Homo sapiens: one gene and its partner. The protein of the gene in region 1 purifies or fractionates together with the protein of each later gene. This does not show direct contact. Each region holds a gene or a part of one and is shown on either strand. Other genes may lie near its edges.

Region 1 (4,966 bases):
GCCACCACACCTGGCCTTTTTTTGTATTTTTAGTAGATACAGGGTTTCACCATGTTGGCCAGGCTGGTCTCTAACTCCTGACGTAAGGTGATCTGCCCGCCTCGGCCTCCCACAGTGCTGGGATTACAGGCGTGAGCCATTGTGCCCGGTTTAGCCATGCTTTTCATTAAACTATTGTTAGTATATAATTTTAGTCAACAGTTTTCTTCTTAAAAGCCTATTTCAGAATTAATCTGGTGGATAGTCTATATTTAGATGACAATCCTTTTCATTTATTTAATGATATTTAAAAACATTTTGTCATTTTATTTTCACAAGTCATCATAACATAGGACAGAGTTTAAGGCTCAGAGGGTTATGCTGTAGGCCTTTTTGTGAAATACCTATGATGAGTGGTAGTAGTGGTTGGTACTCATTAGGTGAAATCACATATTTATTCTGAAGGAAAATATAATACATTGATATTATTCATTTAAGTAAGATTCTTAAGGTTTCTATTCAGTGCTTTAAAAGTGATTTGATTCTAATTTTGTTTGATATCCTGGAGAACTTTCTCTTCCTATGACTTGCTGTGATTCTTTGAGGAATTCATTCATCTATTTTTTTTTTTTTGAGACAGGGTCTTGCTATCACTCAGGCTAGAGTACAGTGGCACAATCATAGATCATATAGATCATAGCTCATAGCTTACTGTAACTCCAAACTCCTGGGCTCAAGCTATCCTTCCACCTCAGCCTCCTGAGTAGCTGGGATCACAGGCATGTGCCACTACACCTGACTACTTTTTTTTTTTTTTTTTTTAAGAGACAGGATCTCACTATGTTGCCCAGGCTCATCTGTTCTTTTTTCTTTTCCTCTACTTTTCCCCATTATAGAAATGAGAGAAGACTACCTCTATCAGTTGATGATAGTTTAGATTTCTTAGGATGTATATTTTCACATAGAAATCAGCCAACCTTACTGCTGCTTGCTTGTTAACCCAATTTTTATATAAAATTAATGTTTGTTTTTATGTATTTACATATAATATATTTATATATTTTCTATAAAATTATAATATTCAAGGGGAGATTCATTTTTACCAATCTTCCACAGTCAAACAGTAGAAAGGGTATAGATTTCTGTTTCTGTGTCTTTTTTAATGTATTGAGTGTTCCTTTTTTACAGCTTGCTAGAGAAGTTTTGGATGTTGCTGCCGGCATGATTAAACCAGGTGTAACTACTGAAGAAATAGATCACGCTGTACACTTAGTAAGAACTTCACTTTTTTACTTTGAGTAATTTTGTTACATTACTAGATGCTTTGAACTTAAACATTAAGTAGATTTAAGTTCTGAGTGTCTAAGGTAACTTGGGTAAACTCATTTGAAAGCAAATTTTTGCTTTGTTTCAAATATGGAAAACATTCAACAGTCATTATTCTCATCTTTAAGAATCTATAATATTAAGGTCTGAGGTAAGCTTGAAATATCTTGTTTCTGAAACAACATATTTGTAATAAGCATTTCAGTTGAGCTTTTATAAAATGATTGATTTTATCTGCTTTAAGTAAATCCTGCCACTACAGACATCAAATATTCTGAAATAAAAAAAAGAATATGACTTCTGATGGTAGATTAGTTAAATGTTTCCTCAAGGCAATGAACAGTCCACATAAATATTTGTAGTAAGTATAGGGATTAAAAATAAATAAATAAAGATTGTCTGCCCATCAAAGAGAGACCTTAAGACCTTATTAGATGAGTGTACACATTATATGAATTTTAAAAAAAAGAGTGATAAGTAGTTAATATAACATATGGAAAGCAGATCACACGTGTTCTAGTAAACAAATACAAATTATAAAGACCTAGTAAATTTGTATTTTAAAGATGTTTATATGCATTGCTTGTGTGGAAATGATGAAACTGGTCCTCTCTTCTGCTTGGTGATGGTATTGTAAATTGGAAGAACCCTTTTGGAAGGATTTGACAATCTATCTTGAGCTATGAAAATGTTTATAAATTTTTTATTCAGAATCTTATTAATCCTGACTTTTGGGTATTGTTTCATATGTTAGTATAAGACGTATCGTATGCAATAATAGCATTTTGAGTATGCTCTGTGGGCCAGGTACTCAAGTGCTTCTTTTACATTAACTCATTAATCTTACCAACAACCTCTTGAGGGTAGGTACTATTGTAATCTCCGTTTTATAGGTAAGGAAACTGAGGAAGAGAGAGGTTAATTAATTAAATTGGTAAAAGTTACACAACTTGTAAGTGATGGAATTGGCATTTTCAATCTAGAAAGTCTAATTCTGTATGCTCTGAACTATTATTTGTAATGCTATGAGAAGTAGAGAAGTATATTCCTAAATGAGGGAAAAGCCACAAATGTAGTTATTGGTTGTAAGATTTTTTTTTTTTTTGTAATTGAGGAAACTTCATATTAATTTAGATTTTCAGTAAGAATGGAATTGCTAGTAAAATCATGGTATATTCTGCATATTCTGCAAATGGTATATTGTGCAACCATTAAAAAATATTAGCCTGAAGACTAGAGCAGGTTGGAAACAGAAATTACGTATACTGTGATTACCACTGTGTAAAAGCATCCAGTAAAGTAAGACTTGTTATGGAGAGCAGACCATGTTTTTCTGTTAGGAGTTCTTTTGTTGTTCCACTGAATGTGGTTATTAAAATATCTGGAAGTACTTTACCGTTTCTTAATTATACTAGTAGTCATTTTTGGGGCATAGTGATATAGGCTTGTTTCAACATAAGAATTATAATTACATCAAAAATGCTTGTTAATATTTACTTCAAATATTTTATTTTTACTTTAACATTTTTCATAAGGACTAGTTAATTCTAAAGTAAAATCTTCATATGTGGTAATATTTATATATATATTTGTTATAGAGGTTGAGTATCCCTTATCTGAAATGCTTTGGACCAGAAGTGTTCTGAATTTTGAATTTTTTTGGATTTTGGAATATTTGTATTATACGTAACTGGTTAAGTGTCTGTAATTTCAAATTTGAAATTCTAAATGCTCCAATGGGCATTTCTTTGAGTGTCCTGTCGGTGTTCAGAAAGTTTCAGATTTTGGAGGATTTCAGATTTTTGGATTAGGAATACTTAACCTGTATGTCATTTTACTTTTCCTTTGTGCAGTTACCAGTAAACTGGTTTGTGTATGTGTACCTGACTGGCACAAACCCTGTTGTATATTGTTTAAGATAATATCCAGTACTGTTACTAAAATAAAATACTGAGTTCTTCATAGTAGCATGTGTCCAACTGTTTTCACATTTTTCAAATTTTAAAATCTGTAATTTCATACAGATTTTTTCTTTTATATATTCCAAATTATTTTTTCTGTATTATAGGCATGTATTGCAAGAAATTGCTACCCTTCTCCCCTGAATTATTATAATTTCCCAAAGTCTTGTTGTACCTCAGTGAATGAAGTCATTTGCCATGGAATACCAGACAGAAGGCCCTTACAAGAAGGTGACATTGTTAATGGTAAGAAAAATATGTTACTTTCATCACCATGGGCAAAGAAACAACAAAGCTTGGGGAATCTGACAGTGACTTGTGTTTTCTTGACTTGCTTCCTGTACTTAAACTTTTTCCTTTTTAAAATTCAGTATCACTAACTCTTAAATCTACAGGAAGCTCTCTTAACGGTTTTGTGCATGTTGCTTTTAAGATACTTCCGGTGTGATGTGTTTGGTGCAGTGTATTTCTTTAATGCTTATCTCATATGTGATTGGTAAATAGGTCAAAGATGTCAGTGAAATGTGGAGTCTAGTTTTTTTCCCCCAGAAGTTCACTAATGGTTTTGAAGAGACCAGGGCAGGCTTTGTTATAGATACAGGAAAACCCTTCATAATATATGAAGACCTAAAGGAAAGCTGAAAATCTTGCAGAAGTGCCTTACTTGAGTGGAAGTAGCTTTAAAGACCCCTATGTTAAGCTACCTTGGGAAGTTACAAGTATAGAGAGTAGAGGAAGTAGTTTAAAAGACATTAATGAAGGCTTTCCTAGATGGCATTTGTTTTTGTTTTGTGTATTATTTTATTTTTTGGAGACAGGGTCTCACTGTCACCCAGGCTCGAGTGCAGGGGCGCCACCATGGCTCACTGCAGTCTTGACTTCCCTGGCTCAGGTGATCCTCCCACCTCAGAAGTAGATGAGACTGCAGGCTCATTGCTACCATGCCCAGCTCAGTTTTTGTATTTTTTGTAGAGATGGGGTTTTGCCATGTTGCCCAGGCTGGTCTCAAACTCCTGGACTCAAGCATCTGCCCACCTTGGCCTCCCAAAGTCTTGGGATTACAGGCATGAGCCACCGTGCCTGGCTTAGATGGCATTTTAATATTGATGGAATTAGACTCTTTGTTAATAAGATATCTTAAAGGAACTACCTATCAAATGAGGAAGCATGAGCCCAAGTGTTAGAGGCTGCAGATAATTGACTGATTGTGATGCTAGCTGTGAATGATAGCCGAAATTTAACTATGACACTATTTTTATTAGAATTGCTACTGCTTTAGTTAGGGTATCTGTTCATAAAGTTCCATAGGTTTTGAGGCCAACCCTGTTTTTCAAATATAAAGCCTGTTATTTTTATTATATGTAGAATGTGTGAGGTTTTTCAGGAATGTATGTGTTGTGCTAGAACCAAAATATCTATATTGTGATGTTACAGGTTGATTGAAATATGTGGTTTAAAAATACTCAATGTGCTCTCTAGATACATTATAATGGTATAATAGTATATAATATATAGTATAATAGTAATCTATATTCTTAAACATGGGGACAAAGAGAAGAATGAATATTCACAAATAAGAGAAAAGCAAATGAGTTTTAAAAAAACAGGTGTAGAGCAGTGTAAATTTTTCTGTTATTCCCTAGCAGGAGTAAGGAACTTGTAAAAGATAAGTGAAAATGGTATTTTGTAGCAATGTAGCA
Region 2 (4,485 bases), on another chromosome or scaffold:
GGGTTTCAGTCTTGAGTCATTTAATATGATAAGGACAATCAGAAGTAGAATAATAAAGAAGTGCAAAGGCAGCAACAAAGTTGTCTGAGGGCAGTCTTCGGAAAGGAAGAGGGTAATATTTGGAAAACCCTGTTTTCCTGTTTTCTGCCAACAGACTCCTGAAATCATGTTCTTGGGATTCTTATCAACACATTTATTATTACACTAGTGAAAGCTTTTATTTAATAACACTGAGAGCATGAATATTATTTTCTTGTTCATATTTCATGTTTTACTGCTTAAATTGATTATATATATACACATATATATGTGTATATATACACATATATATGTGTATATATACACATATATACACATATATACACATATATATGTGTGTATATACACATATATACACATATATACACATATATATGTGTGTATATACACACATATATATACACATATATATGTGTGTATATACACACATATATATACACATATATATGTGTGTATATACACACATATATATACACCCTATATATGTGTGTATATACACATATATATACACCTATATATGTGTGTATATACACATATATACACACCTATATATGTGTGTATATACACACATATATACACATATATGTGTGTATATACACATATATATACATATATATGTGTGTATATATACACACATATATATGTATATATACACATATACATATATGTGTGTATATATACATATATACATATATACACATATATATGTGTATATATATACACACATATATGTATATGTATATATATATATACACACACATATATATGTATATGTATATATATATGTATATGTATATATATATATATATATATATATATATATATATATTTTTTTTTTTTTTTTTTTTTTTTTTTTTTAAGGGCCAGAGCCTGAAGCGGATAGCCAGGAACAGGTTCACCCGAAGACTGGGTGTGAGCGCGGAGATGGTCCTGATGTCCAGGAGTTGGGCCTGCCAAATCCAGAGGAGGTGAAAACACCTGAGGAAGGTAGGCAATCCATTAGGCATGCAAATTGTAGGGTGTCTGTTTCCACAGTATCATATTATAATAATTATTATTTTTTTGAGACAGAGTCTCGCTCTGTCAACCAGGCTGGAGTGCAGTGGTGCCATCTCGGCTCACTGGAGCTTCTGCCTCCCAAGTTCAAGTGATTCTCCTCCCTCAGCCTCCCAAGTAGCTGGGATTACAGGCGTGCTCCACCACGCCCAGCTAATTTTTGTATTTTTAGTAGAGACGAGGTTTTGCCATTTTGCATAAGCTGGTCTCAAACTCCTGATCTCAGGTGATCCACCCACCTCAGCCTACTAAAGTGCCAGGATTACAGGCATGAGCCACTGCACCTGACCCAGTATTATGTTTTTAATAACACAGGGGTAACAATACTGCCTCCTTAATAATAGAATTCTTATATAAAGGTTATTTGAAATGTAGTTCAGGTCCCAGCAGCCAACTTATAGACTGTCAGATACAGAAACAAACTGAGACAAAGCCATATTGAATTATAACTTTTGAGTATAAATCCTTAAACCAATAGCTCATGATTTTCAGATGCTTTTGTAAAGGTCTGCTTTTAATAAATACATAACACATTTGTAACACCCATCAGTTGGTGTGAAATATGCTGAAGCACGGATGCAGGTTCTAATACCAGCTCTTACAGCATTGGTGAGATTCTGAGCAAATCCCTTACCTTCTAAACCTATCTTTGGTCTTATAAAAATAGTGAGTTTAAGTCAGATATTTTAAAATCCTTTTCCATTCTGGTTCTTTCATACTCTGATCCTGTTGCATAGAATGCATAGGATACAGAGATCATCTGTTTTACATGATTTATTTATCATAAATCATGAAACCCTGGCCTGAGTCATCTGAAAACCTCTGAATTGAGATTTCATTGCTACTAAGAAAGGGAGCGGGCACTCTGCTTCATGTTAGTTTTTCTGTGTGGAGACCTGAATGCCTATTCTTAGGTACTGTCAATTTTTGAATTGTCGCTCTGACAGAGTGACAAGTCTCACTCTGTCACCCAGACTGGGGTGCTGTGGTGCGATTTCAGCTCACTGCAACCTCAGCCTCCCAGGCTCAAGTGATCCTCCCAACTTAGCCTCCTGAGCAGCTGGAACTACAGGCACAAGCTGCCATGCCTGACTGATGTTGTTTTGTTAAAAAATTTTTTTTATACAGATGAGGTCTCACTGTGTTGCCCAGGCTGGGATTCTCTGGCCCTTAATGAATAAGTGCTTTTTAAATCTTTCTCCAAGGAAACCTTGAGTGAGTGAATAATCAAATGGTGAGAGACCATTTAGTTTCTATTTTCTGTGGGATGTAGGTCAGTGATGCTCAGCATGGGTGTGAGTAAGATGCCTGTGCTACGCACACTCCCTGCCCCACTGTCAGTCTTCATGAGCCACTATTTCTAATAAGACTGTAGACACATACATGATCTCTAACCATATCAAATGTTGCATGTAGGTTTCAGATTTTGAGGCATCAGTTGGTAAGATTTGAAGTTCAAAGACCATGACTCCAGTACTTTCTGAGTAATCCACCGAAGTATGTTTTACACATGTGTTTTCCAAGTTGCTGACTGTTAATTATAAGTGCTTCTGGATTTAAAGGAAGCACCTGATGTTTACGGAATTAATTACCTTTAAATTCTACAGGTCTACCCTCAAAATTTATACAGAGGTTTACTTGGCTATAAGACACAGGATCGCCCTTAGAGTTCTATTTTTAGTCCATTTTATAAAACCCAAATTGTAGTGTCCTTTGTGTGCCTTTTGGGTCATCTAAATAATCTGCTGCTAAATCATCTTCCTAACAGTTATGTTTCTGTTACAGATGAAGGGCAATCACAGCCTTAAAAGAAGACACGCTGAAATGGTTCAGGCTGCTCCTGTGTTGGAAATTTGACCATTAAAATTCTCCCAATAAAGCTTTACAGCCTTCTGCAAAGAAGTCTTGTGCATCTTTTGTTAATTTTACTTCCAGGTGTTTGATGCTCTGAAATGTGTATCATTCTTTGACATTTTATATGCTAGCTGTTTGAGCTGGTATGTAGAGGCATAATTCCTACATATTGAGTTTCTATCCAGCAACCTTGTTAAATATGCTTATTAATTCTAAAAGTTTACTTCTAGATCCTTTTCAGTTTTCAACATACAGAATCATATCGTCTTTGAATAAGAACAATTTTGTTTCTGCCACTTTTTTTTCTGTTTTCTTTTGTATTTTTTGTAGACACGTGGTTTTGCCATGTTGCCCAATTTGTTCTTGAACTCCTGAGCTCAAGTGATCCACCCACCTCGGCCTCCCAAAGTGCTGGGATTGCAGGCATGAGCCACTGCGCCCGGCCTGTTGCTGCCATTTTAAACACTTTTATTTCCTTTTCTGATTTTAGGGGCATTGGGCAGACCCACTGGTATAATGGCGATAGTGGACATCCCTGTCTTATCCCTGATCAGAAATGGAAAAATTTCAACATTTCAACATAATATTTACCGTACTTTTTTTGTAGATTGACTTCAACAGTCAGTCATTCCACTCTGCTCCAGTTTGCTGAGAGTATTCATTTTGGATATATGTTGAGTTTCATCAAACACTGCATCTATTGTGATTATCACCGCATTTTTTCATTAATCTGTTAAAGTAGTGAATTAGATTGATAAATTTGTACTTTTTTGTTTTATATTTTTAAAAATTGAGACAGAGTGTCACTCTGTCACCCAGGCTGGAGTGCTGTGGTGTTATCACAGCTCACTTCAGCCTTGACCTCCTGGGCACAAGGGATCCTCCCACCTCAGCCTCCTGAATAGGACTATAGGCACATGCCACCATGTCCAGCTAGTTTTTCTATTGTTTCGTACAGATAAGATTTTGTCATGTTGCCCAGGCTGCTCTGGAACTTCTGAGCTCAGGTGATCTGCTCACCTCAGCCTCCCAAAGTGCTAGGATTACAGGTGTGAGCCTTGGCCTGGCCACATTTTTCTTACATAGGGGTCTTGTCTGTGTAAAGACTCAACTTACCTGTACGTTTGTGTGGGTGGGCTAACAGCATGATGAAATTTATCGTTCTATTGATTTAAAGAAAACTATCCTTGACTTTCTAATGTGTAAGTACATCAAAGCATAACTATAATTATTTTGAACGCATATATTGTTATGGGTGTTGGGATCCCTGCACTTTCCGCTGCTGTGGGAGTATGTCCTTGTAGGTATCTTTATTCTGTTTTCTCAACTGCAAACATCCTAGGACCATGGGTTGTGACTGGCAAGGAATGTGCCTTGTTAATTTCAAGATGGAGTTGATTTTCAAGTGGTTTCACTCTGGCTGTCCTAGACTCCTGTTTCCCTAATATTTTCACTTCTTCTGTGATTCTGATGCTACAAATGATAGATGTTTTAGTATTTTCTTACAGGTCCACGAGGTTGTATTCCTTTTTCTTT

The links.
Region 2: the proteins of METAP1 (region 1) and PAGE1 purify together in Homo sapiens (co-immunoprecipitation; one large-scale study listed by IntAct). This does not show direct contact.

Annotation. Positions count from the first base shown.
Region 1 is NC_000004.12:99,039,876-99,044,841, forward strand, and holds part of METAP1 (methionine aminopeptidase 1), read left to right. Parts: intron 1-1,167; coding exon 1,168-1,251; intron 1,252-3,373; coding exon 3,374-3,512; intron 3,513-4,966. UniProt on the Homo sapiens protein: Cotranslationally removes the N-terminal methionine from nascent proteins. The N-terminal methionine is often cleaved when the second residue in the primary sequence is small and uncharged (Met-Ala-, Cys, Gly, Pro, Ser, Thr, or Val).
Region 2 is NC_000023.11:49,685,959-49,690,443, reverse strand, and holds the end of PAGE1 (P antigen family member 1), read left to right. Parts: intron 1-900; coding exon 901-1,026; intron 1,027-2,880; coding exon 2,881-2,903; 3' UTR 2,904-2,997; downstream 2,998-4,485.